Homo sapiens: one gene and its partners. The protein of the gene in region 1 purifies or fractionates together with the protein of each later gene. This does not show direct contact. Each region holds a gene or a part of one and is shown in the gene's direction. Other genes may lie near its edges. The genes, in order: L3HYPDH, MAPK13, GSTK1, RDH13, UHMK1, MMUT and ALDH7A1.

The links.
Region 2: the proteins of L3HYPDH (region 1) and MAPK13 purify together in Homo sapiens (co-immunoprecipitation; one large-scale study listed by IntAct). This does not show direct contact.
Region 3: the proteins of L3HYPDH (region 1) and GSTK1 purify together in Homo sapiens (affinity purification with mass spectrometry; 2 studies listed by BioGRID and IntAct, with this or other methods). This does not show direct contact.
Region 4: the proteins of L3HYPDH (region 1) and RDH13 purify together in Homo sapiens (affinity purification with mass spectrometry; 2 studies listed by BioGRID and IntAct, with this or other methods). This does not show direct contact.
Region 5: the proteins of L3HYPDH (region 1) and UHMK1 purify together in Homo sapiens (affinity purification with mass spectrometry; one large-scale study listed by BioGRID and IntAct). This does not show direct contact.
Region 6: the proteins of L3HYPDH (region 1) and MMUT purify together in Homo sapiens (affinity purification with mass spectrometry, with the first as the bait; one large-scale study listed by BioGRID). This does not show direct contact.
Region 7: the proteins of L3HYPDH (region 1) and ALDH7A1 purify together in Homo sapiens (affinity purification with mass spectrometry; 2 studies listed by BioGRID and IntAct, with this or other methods). This does not show direct contact.

What each region holds. Positions count from the first base shown.
Region 1 is NC_000014.9:59,481,609-59,485,660, reverse strand, and holds the start of L3HYPDH (trans-3-hydroxy-L-proline dehydratase), read left to right. Parts: upstream 1-1,252; 5' UTR 1,253-1,344; coding exon 1,345-1,852; exon of another isoform or gene 1,853-1,981; intron 1,982-2,085; exon of another isoform or gene 2,086-2,171; intron 2,172-4,052. Other genes in the region: JKAMP (JNK1/MAPK8-associated membrane protein), read right to left, coding at 545-590. UniProt on the Homo sapiens protein: Catalyzes the dehydration of trans-3-hydroxy-L-proline to Delta(1)-pyrroline-2-carboxylate (Pyr2C). May be required to degrade trans-3-hydroxy-L-proline from the diet and originating from the degradation of proteins such as collagen-IV that contain it.
Region 2 is NC_000006.12:36,133,513-36,137,012, forward strand, and holds part of MAPK13 (mitogen-activated protein kinase 13), read left to right. Parts: intron 1-2,240; coding exon 2,241-2,349; intron 2,350-2,506; coding exon 2,507-2,536; intron 2,537-2,971; coding exon 2,972-3,019; intron 3,020-3,143; coding exon 3,144-3,258; intron 3,259-3,366; coding exon 3,367-3,438; intron 3,439-3,500. UniProt on the Homo sapiens protein: Serine/threonine kinase which acts as an essential component of the MAP kinase signal transduction pathway.
Region 3 is NC_000007.14:143,266,441-143,269,615, forward strand, and holds the end of GSTK1 (glutathione S-transferase kappa 1), read left to right. Parts: intron 1-1,176; coding exon 1,177-1,293; intron 1,294-1,650; coding exon 1,651-1,744; intron 1,745-2,347; coding exon 2,348-2,397; 3' UTR 2,398-2,675; downstream 2,676-3,175. UniProt on the Homo sapiens protein: Glutathione S-transferase that catalyzes the conjugation of glutathione to exogenous and endogenous compounds. Significant glutathione conjugating activity is found only with the model substrate, 1-chloro-2,4-dinitrobenzene (CDNB).
Region 4 is NC_000019.10:55,046,149-55,049,648, reverse strand, and holds part of RDH13 (retinol dehydrogenase 13 isoform 1 precursor), read left to right. Parts: intron 1-885; coding exon 886-990; intron 991-1,107; coding exon 1,108-1,320; intron 1,321-1,391; exon of another isoform or gene 1,392-1,603; intron 1,604-2,160; coding exon 2,161-2,262; exon of another isoform or gene 2,263-2,544; intron 2,545-3,500. UniProt on the Homo sapiens protein: Retinol dehydrogenase with a clear preference for NADP. Oxidizes all-trans-retinol, but seems to reduce all-trans-retinal with much higher efficiency. Has no activity toward steroids.
Region 5 is NC_000001.11:162,525,318-162,528,817, forward strand, and holds part of UHMK1 (serine/threonine-protein kinase Kist), read left to right. Parts: 3' UTR 1-3,500. UniProt on the Homo sapiens protein: Upon serum stimulation, phosphorylates CDKN1B/p27Kip1, thus controlling CDKN1B subcellular location and cell cycle progression in G1 phase. May be involved in trafficking and/or processing of RNA.
Region 6 is NC_000006.12:49,456,754-49,460,253, reverse strand, and holds part of MMUT (methylmalonyl-CoA mutase, mitochondrial precursor), read left to right. Parts: intron 1-748; 5' UTR 749-787; coding exon 788-1,172; intron 1,173-2,195; coding exon 2,196-2,563; intron 2,564-3,500. UniProt on the Homo sapiens protein: Catalyzes the reversible isomerization of methylmalonyl-CoA (MMCoA) (generated from branched-chain amino acid metabolism and degradation of dietary odd chain fatty acids and cholesterol) to succinyl-CoA (3-carboxypropionyl-CoA), a key intermediate of the tricarboxylic acid cycle.
Region 7 is NC_000005.10:126,543,220-126,546,719, reverse strand, and holds part of ALDH7A1 (alpha-aminoadipic semialdehyde dehydrogenase isoform 1 precursor), read left to right. Parts: intron 1-320; coding exon 321-396; intron 397-1,700; coding exon 1,701-1,755; 3' UTR 1,756-3,500.

The sequences.
Region 1 (4,052 bases):
GGGCTACAGAAGGAGACTCCGTCTCAAAACAAACTGCGGTCTACATGTGAATTAATTTGAAAAATTATGCATCTTTTGACTATTCTTGAACAATCATTTCCCAAATTATTCACGAATTCACAATCTAGACTGCCTGGTCTACAGTGCCTTCTCTCCTTTCACATTCAAGCAGACTTTTTACTTCCTTCTCCTTATGCTGCTGAGAGAAAAAGAGAAACAGCATTGAATAATATTCCTCCAGTTTAATATTTTCGCTTTTAACAAATTTCGGACTTAGCTTTTTAAACCCACTGGCCTCTTTAATGGGCGCTTATTTTTTTTGTAACCAATTGTAATCACAATGTTCTAAATTAATACATGAAAATGAATATTTCAGGTTTTTCAAGAATGCAGAAGGTAAGGAATTGGAAACTTCTGTATGGGCTTTACATCTAGTAGATGCTTAATAAATACACGTGAATATCAATAATCTAAAGTTTCTCAAAATCCAAGGCCTGAAAACCAGTATGATAAACTGAACTGAAATAAACAGCCTATCACTTACTAAGCAAAACCCAGGCTCCAAGCGACTGTTGAATTTCTCCTTTCATTTCCTTTAGCGAACGATGGCTAAAGTTTTAAGATTCCATTTTTTTGCAGCGGTCCTGCCCTTTGTGACGGGCGCTATAAATCTACGTTTGAGGTTGAAGCAGTAGACAAATTATGCAGCAACTTGCTTCTGCTTTACTGTTTTTTCTGCACTATCACCCGCGTTTTCAATTCCGAAGTCAACCCTCAAGCAAGTGTTCCCTCGACATTAAACTAAGGGACTGAAGAGACATTTCGGACCAAACAACAAAGACCTGGCATTTCGCCGCAGACAGCGCGCCTCCCCTAGTAGCCCGTTGCGGACAGACCACCCCAACCCCGCAGGAGTGCGGAGCCCGGCCCGAGGGCGGGCGGGGTCAAGGGGCGAGCCTGCGCCGCCAACCGAAGGCCGCCTACAAAGAGCCGAGCCCGAGGCCAGCCGTGTAGGAAAGTAGTCGGGACTACCAGAAACGCTTCCCGGGATCTTGGCGACCACTCACCCATGGGCCGCCTGAAGGTTTTTTTCGAGAAGCACTAGATCAGCGGATCTGGCAGCTGCACCGAACATCCGGGCCACAGCGAGCTCGGCGGCTCCGCCTCCCGGTAACCCGGGCGACAGCTCCGAAGTTCCTCCCTCGCTTCCGGGTTTAGGCTCCGAGACCCCGCCCCCCGGACGTGGCTGGTTAGCGTCCCGCCCTCCTCCCGCGGAGTCAGTGGGTGAGGGTCGGGCTTGAAGCCATAGCTGCGGGACCGTACTCGTCTCCCCCGACGCAGACCATGGAGAGCGCGCTGGCGGTGCCCCGGCTGCCCCCGCATGATCCAGGGACGCCGGTGCTGTCGGTGGTGGACATGCACACGGGCGGCGAGCCCTTGCGTATCGTGCTGGCGGGGTGTCCGGAGGTGTCTGGGCCCACCCTGCTGGCCAAGCGGCGCTACATGCGCCAGCACCTTGACCACGTGCGGCGACGGCTCATGTTCGAGCCCCGAGGGCACCGGGACATGTACGGGGCGGTCCTAGTCCCGAGCGAGCTGCCGGACGCGCATCTGGGCGTCCTGTTCCTGCACAACGAGGGCTACAGCTCCATGTGCGGCCACGCAGTGCTGGCGCTGGGCCGCTTCGCTTTGGACTTCGGGCTTGTGCCGGCGCCCCCTGCGGGCACCCGCGAGGCCCGCGTCAATATCCACTGCCCCTGCGGGCTGGTGACCGCCTTCGTGGCATGCGAGGACGGCCGCAGCCACGGACCGGTGCGCTTCCACAGCGTCCCGGCCTTCGTGCTGGCCACAGGTAATGGGCGGGACCTTTCCAGCCCAGGGCAGAGCTGCAACCGGGACGCGACTAACTACATTAACGGTTTTTCTGGGCTGGAACTCTGGCAACTAACCTACTCCGCGAAACCTTGCAATTAATAGAAAGGTAAATCACTGCCAACGTGTGTCAGCAGCCTTGCGTATTTGGTGCGTGTAATTTCGATTTTCCCTGACTCCCATCCGCCTGTGGTTTTGGGAGACCCTTGAGGAGCGAGGAATTGCGTGTTACCCTGACTCAGCGCCTCCCTCTGCACTGGTGAGGCATTCCTAGAGATTTCACCGGTGGATAAAGCAAGGTACGGTGGGGTCAAGGAAAGAGCGAAGAACAGCCAATGTACCAGGGTTCCAGGCTGGCTGAGAATATGCTTGGTAGACACAGAATCACACTTAATAAGTTACTAAACCTGGTCTCCTTTCCTCACCTCCCCCACTTCTTTGAAGAATTAAATGAGAATGAATGAACAAAGCAGTTTATAAATCATTAAGATACGAATGTTGCTTTTCTTTAAGAACAGGAACACACATTGCCTGGTTTCAAATCCTGATAACCCCCTAAAGCTGTGCAACCTTAGGCAAATTACTTAATCTCTCTGTGCCTGTGTTTCTTCTTTTCCCTCATAGAGTTTTTTTGTTAGGATTAAATGAGAGTATGCAAGATACTGTATTCCTGGAGATAGATTGCAAGGTTTATATGATCGCTAAAGTTCCCTAGGCCTATTGAGCCATTAAAAGGTTTTGCTGGATTCTCTAGTACAGATCCTTGTACAGCTTATCATGTAAAGCAGGGCATCTCTATAACCATAACCCTTACAGGAGGGATGACCTGGCAAGCTGGCATCTGGTTTCTCATCAGACTACTACCTCCCAGGAGCTGAATTCTATCAGTAAGAATGCTTTAGTCATTGTGACTGGAAGTGAGCCAGGAGCCAGTTTACCAGGAATAGAGTTATCCTTTTCTTAAAAATCTTCAAGCCATGCAAATCATCTGTTAGAAAGTTGGACCTTGATTCCCCCTGAAGAACTAGGTTTCAGATTAGCCTGATTATGAATGATAACTGATAGAACAGGCACTTTTAGAGCAACCTTAGGCAGCTGAAATCCACGAGTTAACGAAGAATGCCTCTGGAGAAATTGATGCCATTTTCCCAGAGAATGGTGTCACTTCCAGACTGGGAGGCCACTTGAGGGAGACAGAATTTATGTTTACGATTCCATTTTTAAAACCTCAACAGTTTAACTAGCGTGGCTACCAGAATTCCCCCTAGGCAACTCCAGCAGCAGAGTAGAAACACTCTAGACTTCTGTAGGAAATGGCAGCTGGCAGCAGGAACACAAACTACATCTCATTTCTGGGTCAGTTAGGGCAGGGTCAGTCAACCACTTGACCTCAGTAGTTCCTCTCAGTAGTTCCTGAGAGCATCACTGTATGACAGTACAATGATTAGTGGGCATTAATGGTCACTGAGTTAAGAAAATGAAATGCTATATTCTCTACTTTGAAAAATGCATACAAGGCAGACATAGTGTTCAAGGTCACTGCCCCACCTCTCCCCATCTCAGTGACCTTGTGCTAGAGAGTCCATGCCTCAGTATCACAGTCTGCAAAATGAGGATGACAACAGTACCCACCTCAGAGGGTTGCTGAGTTCATCTCCACCCCACCAGGCTAAAATGCAAACTCTTTCTTGTTCACAGTATTCTAAGTGCCTAGAAGAGTAGTCAGTCAATGAATGTTTGTTGAATGAGTAACTAAATAAATGAAATTTGGAGAAGAATATGCTGATTGACAAATGTAAACATCTGGTCCTCTTGAGAAACCTATTGCCACTGGAAATTAAAGTTTTGGCTTTCGAGTCCCTAATCTGTGCCAGGAACTCCCCATACGTGGAATTTTCAAAACAACTCTTTTAGGAGAAATAGCAGTTACAGTTTGCACAAGACACCAAAGCCACACTAATGGCAGAACTAGGGTTGGAACCCTGGCCTATCATATTGCTTCCCTCTCATCCTTAAAATTTTTTGTAGTTTAAGGAGATATGTTTCAATTTTCTAGAATAGTGCTTAGTGTATTTTAAAGCATTTTAAAATCTGTCTTGTCCAACTAAACTCCAAGAAGGGGAAAAGCCTATGTTTTATTCCTTGTACTTCTCGTATCTTCTACAGTAATCGGCACATAG
Region 2 (3,500 bases), on another chromosome or scaffold:
GTGAGGTGGCAGAGGTGGAGGAATGGGCAGGTTCCTGCTTGAAATACACGGTAGAGGAAGAACAGATCTTGGGGGAAAGATAACGAACTCCATTTTGGACACTTTACTTTTAAAGAAACTGTGAACATTCCAATGTTTAATCACAGTTGCAAATAAATATGAACCTCAGGAGACGAAGGTCTGGGCTAGGGATGTGGATTTGTGCTGGAATAATCACCGATGGGTTATAGCTGACACCCGGGAACAGATAATTGTAGAATGTGGTAAGATAGTATTGATTCAGATATCAACATGAAAGAGAAGATCCAAGAGGATGAGCAGATGGAAGAAGCTGAGAGGGCCTGATAGGAGGCAGAGGAGAGTCAGCAAAGAATTGAGAGGGAGTTTCAGACTTGGTGAAAGGTTAGATCAGAAGAAAAGGGAGTCATGGTGTGTTTGTCGGGTGTTCACTGGTGACCTTGAGCTGAGCAGTCTGGCAGTAGGAGGGAAGCAGAAACCAGGTTAACTCAGGACTGGGAGGTAAGGCAGTGGGATCCAGGAGTGTGGACCGCCCTTTCTAGAAGTTTGGTGGTGAGAGAGGGAGAAGGGGTGGTCAGTTGAAGAAGCAAAGTCAAGGGAATGTGGTTCTAGCACAGAGAGGCTTCAGGAAGCATGTTGCCAAGATGAAAGAACCAGTGCCCGAGTGGAGGGGAAAGACACAGGAGGGGACTGGGCATGGAGAGGCCCCCAAGGGAGGTGTGTGGTCCGGCAGGAGAGGGCTGCCAAAATCCAGAGTCTCCTGGAGATGCCTCCAGCATGTCCTTTCAAAAACAACAACAACAACAACAACAAAAAACACAACCTATTACATAATTGTTTAAGGTAACATTCATTTTAAAAAAGTTTTAAATTTATTATATTCTAGAGATAGGGCTGGGTTGCCCAGACTGGAGTGCAGTGGCACAAACACAGTTCACTGCAGCCTCCAACTCCTAGGCTCAAGCCATCCTCCCGCCTCAGCCCCCCAAGTAGGTGGGACTACAGATGCATGCCACCATGTCCAGCTTTTTGTTTTGTTTTAATTTTTATAGATATGGGGTCTCACTATGTTACTCATCCTGATCTCGAATTCCCGGCCTCAAGTGATCCTCCCACCTCAGCCTCTTGAGTAGCTAAGACTAAAGGTGCATGCCACCACACCTGGCTAATTTTTTTTTTTTTTTCTGAAAGGTGGGGTCCAGGCCGGGCATGGTGGCTCACGCCTGTAATCCCAGCACTTTGGGAAGCCGAGGCAGGCAGATCACCTGAGGTCAGGAGTTCGAGACCAGCCTGGCCAACATGGCAAAACCCCGTCTCTACTAAGAATACAAAAATTAGCTGGGCGTTCTGGCGTGCACCTGTAGTTGTAGCTACTCAGGGAAGCTGAGGCAGGAAAATCGCTTGAACCTGGGAGGTGGAGGTTGCAGTGAGCCAAGATCACGCCACTGCACTCTAGCCTGGGCGACAGAGCAAGACTCCATCTCAAAGAAAAAAAGAAAGGAAGAAAGAAAGATGGGTCCCTATGTTGCTCAGGCTGGTCTTAAACTCTTCGCCTCAAGCGATCGTCCAGCCTCCATCTCCCAAAGCACTGGGATTGGAGGTATGCCCCTGGCCTATTTTATAATTTTTATTATTTTTTGTCTTTGTCCTGGTCTTTGCTTTTACTGTAACAGTTACATTTTGCTGGCCTTATCCTGTTGTGCAATCCCCTAAGAGGCTGCAGGAGCCTCCCCATCTCCCTCTTCCACCCTCCTGGAAACTGTTGTATTGTTTCCTTCTTGGAAAGGTAGACATATTGTTTGTTTGTGGAGCCATCTCAGCTGGGCATGACCCTCTGAGGGATCAAATATTTGGACAGAAGCCGAAGGAAATACTGGCAGATGTTTCTAACTCCTAGCTGTGGCTTTCCCTGGGGTGTGGAGGAGGGCAAGGAGAGAGTACCTTTGAAGAGCGGGAACACAGTTCCATGTGGCTTTCCTGAGCGCGCTCCAACTGCAGCGCTTACTCCGAGCTCTGCCAGCTGGGCGGCCCGCCACAGGGAGACTGGGAGCCAGGAGCCCAGAGGCCCGTGTGGTGATCTGGCTGGCTGAGGTGGAGTTGAGTTTTTGCACACTGGAGGGTGTCTCTATGACCCCTGTTCTGCCCTGAGGTCCCTCCTCTGAGCTCTGACCTGGGGCTGGGTGGGACCCGGCACTGTTCCAAGAACCCCTCATGCCTTCCAGCTACCTGGTGATGCCCTTCATGCAGACGGATCTGCAGAAGATCATGGGGATGGAGTTCAGTGAGGAGAAGATCCAGTACCTGGTGTATCAGATGCTCAAAGGCCTTAAGGTGGGTGGGGACTTGGAGGCTGGCAGAGGGGACGCCTTGCTGTCTAGACCTGAGGTTTGGGGAGGCTGGAGGGAGCGCACTGTTACAGGTCGGCCAGCCTGAAGTGCCTGGTGTGGAAGCTGGGCCATGGACTCACCCTTCTCTCTCTCCCACATAGTACATCCACTCTGCTGGGGTCGTGCACAGGGTGAGTGCTTTCTCTGCCATGGTCCTCAGAGGCCCCTGTCCCATCCCTGGGTATGGGGTTCTCTGGCAATCAAGGAGTGGGAAAGTTGGAGGGAGGGGACACTGCCCAGGAGCACAGAATGTGGAGTTTTCACACCCAGCCACGGCCCAGGAAGGCCTGCTCAAAAGAGTCACTGTGTCCCAGGGGACTTCATGGGGAATTGCTGCAGACAAAGTGAGCCCTGAGCTGAGTGTTTCAGGCTTCAAGAATCAGGAACATTTTAGAGCTGGGTGGGCCCTGAGAGAACACCTAGTCCAACCCTCATTTTACACATGAAGAAACTGAGGCCCAGAAGGGGAAGGGGCCTGGCTGAGGTCACACCCCTGGGTGGTGGTGGAGCTAGGACAAGCTCCATCTCTGCCTCAGCCTAGCATGCATTCTCTGTCCTCCCCCCAGGACCTGAAGCCAGGCAACCTGGCTGTGAATGAGGACTGTGAACTGAAGGTGAGTGGGCTGCAGGCTCAGCCCAGAGGCGGGATAGGCCCTCCCCCAGGGAAGCCCCTGGAAGCCGCTCCCAGAGCCTCCTCCCCTCAGCAAGTTCCTTTTCTATTTATCCCCTGTGCCATAGATTCTGGATTTTGGGCTGGCGCGACATGCAGACGCCGAGATGACTGGCTACGTGGTGACCCGCTGGTACCGAGCCCCCGAGGTGATCCTCAGCTGGATGCACTACAACCAGACAGGTCAGTGGTCAATGCCTGAGAGGGCGGTCCTGGGGCCATCTGGTCACTCGGTGCTGACTGACTGCTGGGCCCCAGACAGTCCAGGTGACACTCTCCCTCCCTCTGCAGTGGACATCTGGTCTGTGGGCTGTATCATGGCAGAGATGCTGACAGGGAAAACTCTGTTCAAGGGGAAAGATTGTATCCTTTGCTGGAAAAGCCAAACTCCATCTAGGGATTCCTTCCTTCAACAGACACTTTAT
Region 3 (3,175 bases), on another chromosome or scaffold:
GTAGGACATAATTCTCTAATTTAACCAAGTCAAAGATAGTGTCTCATTAGGACAGGCTACATGAATTCCTGGGTCCCACTTCTGATCTAGGAAGTCAAGTTGCAGTGGTTGTCAATCTTGGCTGTGAATTAAAATCACCTGGAGCACCTTGGCGCTAACCCTTTCCCCTGGAATTGTGATGTAATTGTTCTTGTTCTTTTTTTTCTTTCTTTCTTTTTTTTTTTTTTTTTTTTTTTTTTGAGACAGTGTCTTGCTTTGTCACCCAGGCTGGGGTGCAGTGGCATGATCATGGCTCACTGCAGACTCAACCTCTTGGGCTCAAGTGATCTCGCATCTCAGCCTTACGAGTAGCTGGGACTTCAAGCATGTGCCACCATGCCTAATTTTTTAAAAATTTTTTGTAGAGATGGGGGTTTCACTTTGCTGCCCAGGCTGGTCTCGAACTCCTGGGCTGAAGCAATCTCCTGCCTCAGTCTCCCAAAGTGCTAGAATTACAGGCATGAGCCACAGTGCTTGGATCTAGTTCTAAGGGATGACCTCACGTGGAGATTTTTTAAAGCTCCTCAGGAGTTTCAGATGGGCAGCCAAAGTTAAGAACCATCTATCCCAAACTATACCAACAAACCACAAACTGAAGCCTTTATCTTTGTCTTGAAGCCAGGTAGGTGGCTGCAGCCATGTGCCTTGTTACAAAGTTCTCAGGAAGTTCCACTGGAATTACAGCCTAGCTCTTGATTCAAAAAAAGCATGAGATACTTAGGAACTGTGAGAGGTAGGAAGGAAAGAGCCCTGGACTTGAATTCTAGAGACCTGGATTCTAGTGTTGGCTCTGCTACCAACATGCTCTGTAACTCTGAGCAAGTAATGTATCACCTCTGGATTCAGGCTCTTCATTTGTGAAATAAAGAGGTCTATCTAGCTGCTCTCTAAGATGTCCGCTGGTGTTAATTTCTGTGATTGACTCTGTGCCATCTACCTTTTCTCCTTTTCCACCCATCTCAAGATTTGGGATAAAGGAAATAGTTCCTCTTGGCAAGGACAGATCTCCACTTGTGGGTGGGTAAGGGCATTGCCAGCAAAACTTGGGGGCAGAAAATAAAAAGACCAGAGTTTTCCTCTGAGATCCCCATCCAATATCATGCAGACACAGTTGTATTCCCTACTATATTCCCTTAGGCTGCAGAGAAGGCTGGTATGTCTGCAGAACAAGCCCAGGGACTTCTGGAAAAGATCGCAACGCCAAAGGTGAAGAACCAGCTCAAGGAGACCACTGAGGCAGCCTGCAGATACGGAGTGAGCAGCTCTTTATGTGTGTTCCCAGCACCCATCCTGAAGATGGAGACTTGAGAATCTCTAAGTTTGAGTCCTTATGCTCCTGTACAAAAGCCCCCTTTCCAAGTGTTCTCCTCAGTGCTCTTAAACAACCCTCATCTTCTTCCTTCTTTTCCTTGGGCTCAGGGAAAGGAAGGGAAGGAGATGCACAGTGAGAGAAAAGAGAGCATCTTAGAAACAGGAAGGCACCTGGGGCCACAGAGCCTCTTAGACCTCTTTGCTTCTGTGAACTCAGAAAAGTACTGACTCAAAGGTTTCAACCCCTGCCTAATACCTGCTCCTTTGCCTTCCTCCTTGCATTGTAACTGCTTTCTCCAGGCCTTTGGGCTGCCCATCACCGTGGCCCATGTGGATGGCCAAACCCACATGTTATTTGGCTCTGACCGGATGGAGCTGCTGGCGCACCTGCTGGGTAAGTAAGTTAAAGAATCAACCCTGAGCCAGGTGCAGTGGCTCACGCCTGTAATCCCAGCACTTTGGTAGGCTGAGGCGAGCAGAGCACGAGTTCAGGAGATTAAGACCATCCTGGCCAACATGGTGAAACCCCGTCTCTACTAAAAATATAAAAATTAGCTGGGACTACAGCTGCCTCAGTGGGAGGCTGAGGCAGGAGAATCACTTGAACCTGGGAGGCGGAGGTTGCAGTGAGCCGAGATCGCGCCACTGCACTCCAGCCTGGGTGACAAAGCAAGACTCCGTCTCAAAAAATAAAAAGATTCAACCCTGAGCTGCCTTTGACCCCAGCTCCACACCCACTATATCAGTTGACCAGAAGGAGGGGCTCAGAGCAAAAAAATATTCTTGGCACTTCCAGTAACAAAGCGTTATGCAGTCAGTGCTGTTCAAGGTTGAGTGGGCAGGGGCTGTCTTCAACCCCATAAAAGAAAAGGAAGCCTTCTATACCTTGAAGCCAAGCAAAAGTCTTTCTAGAAAACCCCTGGGACCTTGTGGGACCAACTCCTGCTGCCAGAACACCTGAGAACAGTGTGCAGAGTCTGTTGTTTTCTTCATCCAGGAGAGAAGTGGATGGGCCCTATACCTCCAGCCGTGAATGCCAGACTTTAAGATTGCCCGGAGGAAGCAAACTCTTCGTATAAAAAAAGCAGGCCATCTGCTTAACCCTTGGCTCCACCATAAGGCACTGGGACTCGGATTTCTCTATCTGATAGAGGTATTTTCTGTGGCCCTGGGAGCTGTCTGTCTTTCCCCTACCCCCAAGGATGCCAGGAAGACGTCCACCATTAGCCATGTGGCAACCTTTACTTCTATGCCTCACAAGTGCCTTTCAGAGAGCCCCAATTCTGCTTTCCCACAAAATAAACCTAATGCCATCAGGCAAAACATTTCTGTGTCTGTATCTGCCCTGGTATATTCTCATTCCTGGGGTCACATCCTGCCTACTCTAGGGGTAGGTGAAGGAGAGCTGTTTCAGTATTTCCAGCCAGACCAGCCATGCAGCCCACCTTGAGCAGCTTGTGCGGTGGAAGAAGTGAGAATAGTCCCCCGTTCTCTCACACAGAAACTCCCCTGGTCTCTCTATCAGCAACAGAAAACCAAGCCAGATGGACTTTGCAACTAATCAAGTTTGGGATTTACTGTCTTCTGACCAACCACAGTGACTGAGATGGGGCTGGGACCAGAAGCCCAGTGGGAGTGAACAGCCGAGGGAACCAGAGTCTGGCTGAGCTTGTGGCCAGATATTTAAACTGGGTCCAGCCACACCTGCAAAACCAGGGCAAGGCAGTACCGGGAAACTGGCTGGAGTTGCTGCGGTTTGGGGAAGTTGCACACCCTTTCATAGATACCTCCCTTAACCCTCAGTGCAGATTCTGAGAAAACTCCA
Region 4 (3,500 bases), on another chromosome or scaffold:
CCTGGCTAATTTTGTATTTTTAGTAAAGACGCGGTTTCTCCATGTTGGCCAGGCTGGTCTCAAACTCCTGACCTCAGGTGATCTGCCCACCTCGGCCTCCCAAAGTGCTGGGATTACAGGCGTGAGCCACTGTGCCCGGCCAGGTCTGTGAGGTTTTAAACCACCTGTCTGTGGCACTTTGTTACGGAACCCGAGCTGAGTGGTACAGGGAGGAAGGCCCTGTGGTTCAGCGCATTTTACAGCTGAGGAAACTGAGGCTGCAGTCTCCATCTGTGTGTCCTTTGGTTGCTTGTATGAGTGAGGTGGCAGGTTTGGGAATGAAACCACGCCTGCGGTGCCGGGGCTCCCACCGGTAACCTCCCGTTTTTGGCCTCGGGGCTCCGGCAGGAAGGAGTCCCAAGGCTTAGATGGAGGTGCGGAGGGCGTGTGAGTGTCCTGGAGCTGCTGTAACAATGTACTGCAAACCCAGTGGCTTACACCCTCAGACGTGCATTCCCTCACGGTTCCGGAAGCCGGCAGTCTGAATCGCGGTGTCCCTGTGGCTGTGACCTGTGAGACGGGCCATAATCCTCCCAGCCTCTTCCACTTCCAGCGGGGGCGGCCCACCCTCACCTTGGAGCTGTGCCTCTCCGGTCTTTGCCTCTGTCCACACATGGCCTTCTCCCCATGTGTCTCTGTCTCTGTTTTCCCTTCCTATAAGGACACCAGTCATTGGATTAGGGCTCACCCTAATGACCGCATCCTGACATGGCCACTTCGGCACAGACCCTGTTTCCGGCACAGGCCACATTCACAGGTTGTGGGAGCACAGGAGTGTTTCTGCTGGTGCATCAGGCTGGGGTCTGTCCTCACCGGGATGTCTCCTCCTCCACCCCTCTCTTCCAGAGGAGGAGCGAGTGGACATTCTAATCAACAACGCGGGTGTGATGCGGTGCCCCCACTGGACCACCGAGGACGGCTTCGAGATGCAGTTTGGCGTTAACCACCTGGGTGAGGCCTGGGCAGGGGCTGCACCATGGGTTCAAGCGATCCTCCCCCGTCGTCCTCCCAAAGTGCTGGGATTTTAGGTGTGAGTCAAAAGTGACCTTTTCATCATCCTTAATCCAGGTCACTTTCTCTTGACAAACTTGCTGCTGGACAAGCTGAAAGCCTCAGCCCCTTCGCGGATCATCAACCTCTCGTCCCTGGCCCATGTTGCTGGGCACATAGACTTTGACGACTTGAACTGGCAGACGAGGAAGTATAACACCAAAGCCGCCTACTGCCAGAGCAAGCTCGCCATCGTCCTCTTCACCAAGGAGCTGAGCCGGCGGCTGCAAGGTACGGGGGCGCTAGGCTCGGCCTCCCTCTTGCTTTACTCTGAGCCTAGAGCGGCCTTTCCATGATCCTAGGCTGATGGGAGGCCAAACGGTGGATCCAGAACAGAGTCAGCAAAAGTAGAGCATGTGGACCACGCTGCCCGCTTCTGGTGCCTGAAGCAGACATCACTAATCGATCGTTCTTCTGAGGATTGTCTGTTCATCCCAGGTGGTCTAGTCTGCCTGGATCAGATGTCCTTCCCTGCTGCTGTTGGGCAGGCAGCTCAGCCTTTTGGCTCCAGCCAGTGAGTCTCAACCAGGGGCAGTTTTGACCCGCAGTTGTCAATGCCTGGAAACACAGTGATCACAGCTGGCTTGGGGAGAGATTGCTCTGGGCATCTGGAGGGTAAAGGCCCAGATGCTCTCAATGTCCTACAGCGCACGGGATGGCCCCTCACTCCTCCCAACCCACAGCATCCACAGTGCTGAGATTGAGAAATCTGTGCTAGGCCTTTGCTTCTGAAAGACGGTCTGTGGACCAGCGGTGCCAGCCCCACTGGGAGCTGGTCAGAGTTACAGTATCTTAGGTCCCACCGCCACGCACCGATGCAGGCTCCCGGGGTAAGCTCAGCGTTCTGGGTTTATGAAGCCCTCCAGGAAAGCTCGGCTCCCAGCAGCCATGTGGCAGAGCCGCTCCGCAAGATAAGACCACTTCACTAAGATTCCAGAGCAAGAGGGACGATGGGGTTTGAGTGCAGGAAGCAGCCTGGTGCCCGGAAGCCCCACAGCTGGGTGTGGGCTGCCACAGCCTCCCAGGTGAGGCTGGACCCCTCCCTCAGTCTTCTCTTTCTTTCTTCCCCAGGCTCTGGTGTGACTGTCAACGCCCTGCACCCCGGCGTGGCCAGGACAGAGCTGGGCAGACACACGGGCATCCATGGCTCCACCTTCTCCAGCACCACACTCGGTGAGTCCCCTCCCAGCCTGGGGTCTCCACGTGGAGCCCTCCACCCCTGCTTTCTCAGCCCAGGGCCCAGGACCCTCCCTCAGAGACCGTCCCTGAGGCCTCATGCCTGCTCCTCGCCTACGTCTTCTGAGGCACAGAGCACAGGTCCCTTTCCTCCGTTGACCTGGCCTGCCAGCCTCTAACAGCCCCGGGAAGCAGGCAGAGCCCTGCTGGCGGATGAGAAAACCGTGTCTCAGAGGAAGAGGCCGTGGAGCTGACGCCTGGAGTCAGGCTGTACTCAGGGTAACTCCAGCTTCACCCCAAACCAGCTGCACCTCCTGGGGAAGAGCTGTTACCCCTCTGAGCCTGTTTCTTCATCTGCAGAGTGCAGGCCTTAATAGGACTCACCTCACAGTCACTGGGGGGGTTATACGAGACCTTCCTTGAAAGGGCCAGCACAGGACCCCGCCCAGAGAATAGGTGGAACAAACAGTTGGAGCTTTACTTACTTATTTTTGAGATGAAGTCTTGCTCTGTCGCCCAGGCTGGAGTACAATGGCATGATCTCCACTCACTGCAACTTCCACCTCCCAGGTTCAAGCGATTCTCCTGTCTCCAAGTAGCTGGGATTACAGGTGCACACCACCACACCCAGCTAGAGGTGGGGTTTCACCATATTGGTCAGGCTAGTCTCAAACTCCTGACCTCAGGTGATCCAACTGCCTCCCAAAGTGCTGGGATTACAGGTGTGAGCCACCACCCCCAGGCAGTTCATGCTTTATGACTAGTGTTTATAATCCTGAAAAACATGGAGTGGGTGATTGGTTGGCATCAAGAATCTTAACTTGGCGAGGCTAATAGCCACGCCTGTAATCCCAGCACTTTGGGAGGCTGTGGTGGGCGGATTACCTCAGGTCAGGAGTTCGAGACCAGCCTGGCCACCATGGTGAAACCCCGTCTCTACTAAAAATACAAAAATTAGCCAGGTGTGGTGGTGTGCACCTGTAGTCCCAGCTACTCAGGAGGCTGAGGCAGGAGAATCGCTTGAACCCGGGAGGCAGAGGTTGCAGTGAGCTGAGATCACACCACTGCACTCCAGCCTGGGTGACAGAGCAAGACACCAGGTCTCAATAAATAAATAAATAAATGTCTTTTTTTTTTTGAGACGGAGTTTTGCTCGTCACCCAGGCTGGAGTGCAGTGGCACAATCTTGGCTCACTCCAACCTCTGCCTCCTCGGTTCAAGTGATTCTCCTGTCT
Region 5 (3,500 bases), on another chromosome or scaffold:
GAGGTGAGGGTTCATGTCACTTAACCCCTACCCTTTTGGGCAAATTTTGTCTCAGGTAGTGTTTCATTCCCTAAATTAATACCTGTGCTTCCTTGCCTCTCACCTTCCCAGTTACTTCTTTGGGGTATTACTGTGGCACATTGTACACCCAGAAAAGGCACATACAGTGATTATTTTGTGGGAAATACTTGATTCTTTTGAAATATATTTGGAGGGGGTAGCTAGCTAGCCACTGTCAAAACTAATGCTGTATTTACAGGACAAAAACAAGTAGAGTTGGACACCTCAGTAAGAGACAGCATTAACTAAAAGTACTGACTGCCTTTTAAAGGAATTTTTAAAACTATTCTCTTGCAATAAGAGATCCGCATTTATTACCACTGGATGTCTTCCTTTTTTGTGGCCACCAATATAGCAGCTCTCTTTAGAGGGATTCCCTTTCTGCTATGCCTTGAGCCAAACTGGCTGCTTTTAGAACAAAAACCATAAGTATGGTTTTACTCGAACTTCTCTTTGTTTTTATTGAGAGAAATATTGCCTTCTTTTTGGTACTCCAGCTGCTAAAGAGTGCTGAGATATGTTAAATTATTTTTTAAAAGAAAATCTCCAAATACTTATTTAACTTGTCTTCTAGATTCATGTTGCTTATATTTTAACTATTGAGCAAGTTTATTATAAGGAATGCTGCCATATAGAGAAAGCTGAAGAGAAACCATGGGCAGAAGGCTTTTTTCTGTCTTATTACACTGGACCTTCACTCTGGTAAGGGCATCAGTTACTTTTCTGGAATAAAAGGCGGAGTTAGAGCACTTATCAGATGCTGTTTCATGGCTTGTTTTAGTTAATTTATCATGCAGATAACTAACATTTGGGTATCTTTTTGTTTTAGGTCTTATTTTCTGACTGTTAGGCCTATCTTACACATAAGTTCTACTATCAGTATACTTGGCAGCATGACTTTTTTTTTTTTTTACAGTTAATTTAATGAAAATCAGCACCATTGTAAATGATAGTAATTGTAACAACATAGTTACTGGGTGAAGGAGTAGGGGAGACACTCAGTAACCATCTATTTACCTAGACACTTATGCAGGGGTACATGCTAGGTGGCTTTATTCAGATTCGGGTACATTGGAATCACATCATGACTTTGAGTCTGATGGCTGTGTAGATAAAGATTTAAGCAAGTGCCTTGTGTTTGCTGGAAAATATTAAAACTCATTTGGGTGAAAGCTTCCCAGATGATGATAATTAATAGCACTTCTGCCTTTTTCCTGGAGTAACTTTTAGATTGAGTCACATATGATAGTATAAAAGTCCAAAATTTTCTGGGTTTACCTTTGTTTTATTTTTCATATATATATTCACTGTCTGCCTGGAAATAGCCTTGGTTTACCTTATTTTTTTGTATATGTAAAACTATTCATATTTGATTTTATTCCAATATTATATATGATGGAAAAGCCAGAATTGTCTGGCAGAATTTAATTCTTCCTTGGATCTCTAGTTCTGTTTTTAATATCAGGTTCCTTCATCAAATTTTACTACTGTAGCTCTGTGATATAATTTCATTTCTTGTCAATTATGGTCACATATAGACAAGTACTTGGTCACAATTAGCTCAAAAGAATCCCCATTTCTTAAGGTGCTCAGTCAATCACCTTTATTTTGAGATGGTAGTTTTTCAAGTTAGTATTACTTACTAGCTTTCTTGATGAATATAAAAATGTTGTCTCCATCATACAGAGCTGAGCCTCTTGTGGTATATTAAGATAAGTCCCATTCTTAATCACAGAAGAACATGGATATTTTAGTTTTTGGAGTACCCAGAATTGTAAAGATTTTGTTTCATTTTGTTTTAGGATAGCTTCTCTGCCTAATACTATAGGATATGTCATGTTCGTTATTGTAGCCACCTCCCTCAGATGTTTTTCACTATTTTTAAATTATATAATGACCAGTAGATTCACAGTAGCATGTACTTGACAAGTGCCATGGATATTTAAGAAGAAGGTAAATAATTTTAATATTTTTTGCTGTAATTTTATAGGAGCAGTGGACTGTAAGAGAAATATCTATAAATCAGAGAGTATTTAGGAAACTTTGTATTTTATAGGTGGTCATTAAAGTGATCTTCAGGATATAAGATAGTTTACACAAACTTTATTCTCCTGATAGGAAATTTTTATTCATTTTCCTACCACTCAGCACTTTTGTTCTGCCTTGTACTGCTTATGAGGATTAATGTTTTAAATTTGCTTTATTTGTGCTTTTCAGAGAGTTGTCATAATTGTGGCAGTTGTGTTTGTGGCACTGTAAATGCTGAAATTCATGGGAAACTTACCAAATGACTGCTTGAGTGTTATTTCCCATTAAATTGGGTAGCTGTCACAATAACCAGAAGAAATCTTGTGGCCCTTTTGAAGAAAGCCATGTATGTTTTGTTACCTAGGTTCATAGTATTTTAATTTAAAGGCAAAGAGAAGCATTCTACTTATTTGTCTTATAAACCATTAATCGTTTTTTGTGCAGAAGAGAGCTTATTTTGTTATACTGCTTTGTATAATGGAAATAAGTCACATTCTGGGGGAAAAAAACTGGAATTGTTTGTATTTTGTTTTTTTGGGGGGGGATCTTTATGTGAAAAATCAGAGCTACTTGTTACCATAAGCCCTTACTATCAACAAGATAATTATTTGTAATCACTTTTTTATCCCAGGTTGGAATTGCTTTCCCCTTCTAAGTTATCTTCCCTTAATAATATTTATGATACCAGGACAGTGAGGGTATAAGAGCAAATGTAGTGAGGTATTCAAAAATCCTGCATATATGGACTCAAAAGTTCTTTAGTTATTTGAATTATATATAGCTATATTATTTTATTAGCTTGGGTTGTCAGAAGATTGCCAATTTTAAGAGTAAAGAGGAGAGAGATAAGTAATAAAAATAGAGGAGGGGAAGAAAATGGCTCCCTTACTGGTCTTAGTAATCTTCTATATAGTTAATGAGCTAAAAAATGATACTTAAAGTTCCAGGTTTGGTACCGCTAGCATAGAAACATTGCCTTTCCTACACATTCCTCATCATTGTTTCCTCAGAAAATTATTTTAAGAGTTTGTGAAACCAGATTAAATATCTATATTCAGTTTGGCCTAATTTTTAAAAATAAATATTTATACTCCAGCTTTTGTGTATTTGGTGTACATCACCACTTATGCAAATCAAGGATCAGAAAACTGGAGGTTAGCCATCTCCATTATTTCCTTTTGCACATTGGGTACAGTGGGTGGCATTAGTATGCACTAGCTGCAAAGTCACAGCACCTTATGGAAATAAGTATGTTTATTATAATAAAAAAAAGTTAAGCTGCATCTCTGTAGATTATTTACTTTGCAGACTGTAAAGCTGCCCTATCTTTTCCAGCAGAATTTACTCTTCCATTCTTAATTCTTTTTTGAAATATCTTAAATAATTTAACATTCCTTTATAACTTCTTAACA
Region 6 (3,500 bases), on another chromosome or scaffold:
ATTGTAAAGATTAAAATTGCTACTCTCTGTGATGTCTTTATAGCCTTCTATGTTACTGGCACATAGAAACGCTGCAAATTGGAGATAATGCCTTAGCTGAATTAGCCAGAGAAGAACATTTTAGGCAGAAGGAAGAGCAAGAGCAAATTCAGAAAACTTTGACATATGTGCAGCCAACTGTAGGTAATCCAGTATTTCTAGTGCACAAAATGCATAAAGAGGACAAAGACAGAGATGGGTCTGAGGGGGAAACAGAGACCAGTTCATGAAGGCCTTGAATGCCTGTTTGTCTTATTCATCACTTTTTTCTCTATTACCCAACATAATGTCGGTCATAAACTGATATTTAATAAAAGCACTTTGAATGAAAAAATTAATTAGGAGGCTGTAGTATATCTTCCACATGATACAGAGTCTTTGAAAAATTCCATGAGGAGTGTGACATAGTCATATTTACATTGATGTCATTGTATGGAAGGGATTCGTATAGAATGGAGTAGAAAAGGAGTAAGACTGGTCAGTAAGACCAGCTAAGAGGCTACTGAGGAAAAAGACTGAAACTACAGGACTGATAGTAATTGTGAAGAAGAGGGGCCAAAGTTATAAAATATCAGGTGCAGGAAGCAGAAAAGGGGAAGAAATGAAATCAGACTAATACATCCTCTTTCTTTTCTGTTCCTTTCTTATGAGTAGCTCCTATTTCCCACCCCCTCTTCTAAATGTTTTTACTCTATGTTTCTTTTTCTAGGTCAGTTCTTATTTCTATTGGGTGTTTCCATGCTCCACCATGTTAAGAGCTAAGAATCAGCTTTTTTTACTTTCACCTCATTACCTGAGGCAGGTAAAAGAATCATCAGGCTCCAGGCTCATACAGCAACGACTTCTACACCAGCAACAGCCCCTTCACCCAGAATGGGCTGCCCTGGCTAAAAAGCAGCTGAAAGGCAAAAACCCAGAAGACCTAATATGGCACACCCCGGAAGGGATCTCTATAAAACCCTTGTATTCCAAGAGAGATACTATGGACTTACCTGAAGAACTTCCAGGAGTGAAGCCATTCACACGTGGACCATATCCTACCATGTATACCTTTAGGCCCTGGACCATCCGCCAGTATGCTGGTTTTAGTACTGTGGAAGAAAGCAATAAGTTCTATAAGGACAACATTAAGGGTGAGATTTTAATGTAAGACATAATATTTATGATAAGTCATATGCCTCCTAGTTTTTTATTTTTTGGGGGTTAATCTCTGTAAAGATGATATTCACTCTATAATTTTGTAGTTAAAGACTATACTCTGAAAAAAGTGGATTTTTTTAACTTCTGTGGTCAAAAAGATAAGTGAATTAGAATAAGGTGCTAAATTTTTGAAAGAAAACAACACATGCACGTTGTTTAAAAGGAATTAGGTGAGGTAAAGTTGCATGAAGAAAAGAAGACATTAGCTTTGCCTTCGAAAAATGTTCAATTAACATTGTTGGGATAGCGATTGGAGAGGAAGATAGTTTAGATGATGCCCAAAGAAAGTGTAAATGTGATAACGTGGTACAAACATATTCAGTGCAACCTGGCATTCATTCACTGAAAATTATCTTAACTATTATTTCTTCTTTCTGAGCTGTAATAAAATTGTACTGTTTGAATACTAAACTTGTAGATTTATAAGTTTGTATTGCCCATGGAAGGTTGAACTTACATTTAGTATAGACTATTTTAGTTATTTAAAAATTTTGTACGATGGTCATAATTCTGTTTTCCAGAATATTTGAATAGCCAGGAATCCTTTGTGACCATATTAGATAAAAGAACAAAATAGTAAGCAAGCATACAAATGCTAAGTTATTTTTGCCATATATGAACAGCCAGATCTTTTCATGAATTTTAGAAATATTTCAATCAAGTACCATATCTTCAGATAGATACGAGATGATTGAGATTTGTTGTTTCTCCCATTCTTTCCTTTAGTGAGGTCTGGAACTAAATTTGTGCATTTTGGCACAAGGGAAACAACTGACTCTCTTAAGAAGTGAAGTATCTTTATTTAAGTTGGTTTTGACATGTATGAGCATAAAAATAGTTGTTATAAAAGTGTACTGTTATGAGATGAATCAACATTTTTAGTAGTGTTAAAAGTAAATCATTTTACCTTGATTCCAGACTCTTGAATCTTACATTATTTTTCTTTATATATTTAGCTGGTCAGCAGGGATTATCAGTTGCCTTTGATCTGGCGACACATCGTGGCTATGATTCAGACAACCCTCGAGTTCGTGGTGATGTTGGAATGGCTGGAGTTGCTATTGACACTGTGGAAGATACCAAAATTCTTTTTGATGGAATTCCTTTAGAAAAAATGTCAGTTTCCATGACTATGAATGGAGCAGTTATTCCAGTTCTTGCAAATTTTATAGTAACTGGAGAAGAACAAGGTGTACCTAAAGAGAAGCTTACTGGTACCATCCAAAATGATATACTAAAGGAATTTATGGTTCGAAATACATACATTTTTCCTCCAGAACCATCCATGAAAATTATTGCTGACATATTTGAATATACAGCAAAGGTATACTTTGTGGTTATTATAGGTTTTTCTATAGTTCCTTGAATGTAGGAATTTTTACAACATGCTATAACTGAATTTAAAAATTTAGTCTGAGTAATATAAATTTAGAATGTTTTGTTATTGTTACTTTTTGTTTTTAATGTACTAATTTTATGTTCTGTCGTTACTTGCAGGAATCTGGGCAACAGATCTTTACTGTGTTTTCTTTATTCCTAAAATTTAACTCTGATAATTGTTAGATTCAGGGAGGTCTTCTACTTACATTTTTAAATTTCCCTCCGAAATTCAGATGCAGTTGTGAAGTAGACACTGGTATCAGACAAATGGGGATTGGAATATCAGCTTTATTTCTGCTAAAAGCTGAATTGGAAGATATCACTTATCACTCATATCTGCAACCTCAAGGAGGTCCCTAATATTCACCCTTGAATTAGGCTCATCTTTCCCAATAAGAATGATGGGAAAAATCCTTCCATAGGGACACATTTTCCTCCTTCATTTTCCTGTGAGCAATTTGTTTATATTTCCCCCCATTATTCACTCTTTGCTTCTTACCAGCAACGTACTCCTTCTCCTTACCTACGTTAAAGTTAGATCATTATTTCATGGCACAGAGAAAATCGTCATCAACCCTTTTTATCTTTATCAACCCTTGTAATTACTGTTATCTCCAAACTCTAGCAAGCATTGTGTAGCAAGCATTTTATGTTTGGTTAACTCTTGGTAAAGATAGTTTTTCTTGGCTGTGCAGGATATGTGTGATGTACTCTACCTAACATGAAATTTTAGGGGAATAGTGGAAATACAGTTTTTGTAGTGATTGTGGTGGAAAGAACCTGTCTGGGATATGCTTAGTATTAAATGTCACAGTAAATCAAACTGAAATCTTTGATTTTTAAAGCCATGCATTTTATCCCATTTTGTTTCAACATATAGT
Region 7 (3,500 bases), on another chromosome or scaffold:
GGGCTGGGCACGGTGGGGTTACAGGCATGCACCACCACGCCCAGCTAATGGGATTTTTTTTTTTTTTTACCGTTTCTTTCTGTTTCCATTTCTTCTTAATTCCTTATATTTTATTTTCCCTCTTAATTCCTTTTTTCTGTTTGTTTTGGTCTCTTGGTCTCTGTCTTTGATTTGTTTGCAGGGGAGATATTGTGGGCTAAATGTAAAGTAAATAATCAGGTTGTTCTGGTGTCCTTTTGGTATCTTCTTTTCATTGATACCAACTATGAGCCCACATGGAAACTGCTCAGAAGATATGATATTATTTTTTATTTCTCTAGGAGGAGAAAAGCACACTGGTGGTGGCAGGGAGTCTGGCAGTGATGCCTGGAAACAGTACATGAGAAGGTCTACTTGGTAAGAAAAGGCTTTGGGAAGATAGGTTTGGGCTTAAAACCCTTGGGAATGGGCTTTTACACTTTCCTACTGTCTGTGCTGTCTTTGTGCAGTGTCATTTGATTTGATTTTTCCAGCATTCCACAGCTGTCTCCTCTAAGTATCTATTTGGTGCTATTTTTCTAGCCTTCTTGTCTAGCTTCAGCTAGTGCCCAGCACCCAACAATGAAATGGTCTCGTGCGTGGTTTCTGTATTTTTAGTAGAGTTGGGGTTTCTCCATGTTGGTCAGGCTGGTCTCGAACTCCCGACCTCAGGTGATCCACCCGCCTTGGCCTCCCAAAGTGCTGAGATTACAGGCGTGAGCCACAGCACCCGGCTAATTTTTGTATTTTTAGTAGAGATTGGGTTTCACCGTGTTGGCCAGGCTGTTGTTGAACTCCTGACCTCAGGTGATCTGCCTGCCTCGGCCTCTCAAAGTCCTGGGATTACAGGCATGAGCCACCATGCTGGGCTGTTTCTTGCACTTTTGAGGGCACACTTTTTTTTTTTTTTGAGATGGAGTCTTGCTCTGTCACCCAGGCTGGAGTGCAGTGGCCTGATCTCAGCTCACTGCAGCCTCAGCCTCCGCCTCCCAGATTCCAGCGATTCTCCTGCCTCAGCCTCCCAAGTAGCTGTCATCACAGGCCTGCACCACCATGCCAGGCTAATTTTTGCATTTTTAGTAGAGACCGGGTTTCACCATGTTGGCCAGGCTGGTCTTGAACTCCTGACCTCAGGTGATCCACGCCTGCAGTGGCTCATGCCTGTAATCCAAGCAGTTCAGGAGGCTGAGGCAGGTGGATCATTTGAGGTCAGGAGTTCAAGACCAGCCTGGCCAACATGGTGAAACCCCGTCTCTACTAAAAATACAAAAATTAGCCAGGCGTGGTGGTGCACAGCTAATCAGGAGGCTGAGGCAGGAGAATCGCTTGAGCCTGGGAGGCGGAGGTTGCAGTGAGCTGAGATTGTGCCATTGCACTCCAGTCTGGGTGACAGAGTGAGACCCTGTCTCAAAACAAAACAAACAAACAAACAAAAACCACCACCAACAAAAAAAACCATGTATGGTATGTCTTTCCAGATTTTTATGTTTCTGTCTTTTTTCTTTTAAATAAAACGGGATCCATACTAACATTGTCTTTTATCTTAAAGGTTTGTCTTAAAAAGTTGTAACTTGGAGATCTTGCCTTGTTAATATATACAGATCTGCTACATTTTAAAAGTGGGCATGAAAATCTTCTGTTATGTATGTACTGTCATTAATTCTGTTATTTTTTCCCACTAGTACTATCAACTACAGTAAAGACCTTCCTCTGGCCCAAGGAATCAAGTTTCAGTAAAGGTGTTTTAGATGAACATCCCTTAATTTGAGGTGTTCCAGCAGCTGTTTTTGGAGAAGACAAAGAAAATTAAAGTTTTCCCTGAATAAATGCATTATTATGACTGTGACAGTGACTAATCCCCCTATGACCCCAAAGCCCTGATTAAATCAAGAGATTCCTTTTTTAAAAATCAAAATAAAATTGTTACAACATAGCCATAGTTACTAAAAGATGAGTTAGGTGGATTTTTATTATGTCAACTAGTTGTACATGGCTTTTTAAAAGTTAATGATTATTTTGTAATTAGAAAAAAATAGTACGTACCAGGGTAGGAATTTGGGAAAATACAGAACCGAGGAGAAAACAGAAGTCTTTGCAGTAGATACAGGGTGTCTCCTGACCAAGTGAAGGATTCAGGGGCGGGGGGTGAATATTGCTTGACATTACCCACCTATGGCATGTGTTGGATGTCGTGTGATTGAAAGGGGGATGCATTCCCCTGTATGCTTGGACCACAGTTCAGTATTCATGTGGAATAACTTGCAGTGCTTAAAATGACAACAGGCATTCATCACAGTTATGGCTCTTGCTTATGAAGGCTGTGTCAACTTGGAAGAGATTTCTGGGGTAGACAGATTTTGTTCCTGTGCTGGAGTCTGCCACCTGCTGGAGGACTCTGAGGCCAAAATTGCCCGTGCAGAGTTGTATAGAAAATGCGTCTGGAGGCTGGGCAAGGTGGCTTACGCCTATAATCCCAGCACTTTGAGAGGCCGAGGCGGGTGGATCAGTAGAGGCTAGGAGTTTGAGACCAGCCTGGCCGATATCGTGAAACCCCGTCTTTACCAAAAAATACAAAAATTAGCCCAGTGTGGTGGCAGGCACCTGTAATCCCAGCTATTAGGGAGGCTGAGGCAGGAGAATTGTGTGAACCCAGGAGGCAGAGGTTGCAGTGAGCCTAGATTGTGCCACTGCCTGGGCAACAGTGAGATCCTGTCTACAAAAAAAAAAAAAAAAAAAAGTGCATCTGGATTTTTTTATACAACCTTAGACCACCTTCTTTAGCTTTAGGCGTCTGCGGTTGCCCTTGGATCTGTTCTCAATCCTCAGTGTGTGTGGCAGCATGTGGTCATAGAGAGCTGGGCAAAGTTCACTTTCTCTTTGCTGACAGTCTCACCTTTTCTCACTGGGAAGCTGCACAGGAGCCTTTGGGCTGGTTCAGCCCAGAGGCCCCTGTTCTCCTGCCTTCCTGGCATTCTCTGCTCCCCTTCTGCATGGCACCCCTCTACTCCTGCCAGGTTAGAATGGAGCAGAGGCCTTTGAACAAGATGACATTTGTAGACAACCTGATCCATCAGGATGTGGAGAGATCTGGACAAATGGCAAATAATTTGGGGTTGAATTATGGCCCAGAGAAGTAAGCAAATGAAAAACTAAACAATTATAAATGTATCTGGGAAGCAAAGGTATTCATAATATGTCCCATGGCCAGCTGCGAGCAGTATTTAACTAGACATGCTGTTGTCAATATTGAACATGAATCAAGCCAAATACTGATATAGCTATTGAGAGAAGGTTGGCAGGAAGAAATCATGGGTGAGGGTATGTGGGAGTGATAATCTTAGCTATAGATTTTAGGTAAAACTGATTCTGAAAGCTTTCTTTGAAACAAATTTATAATTTTTCTTCTACATGTTTCTAGCACAAGGACTCAATTTTTTTTGGTTATAATGTTCATTAAAACATATGCCTTCAATTTGTTCCTC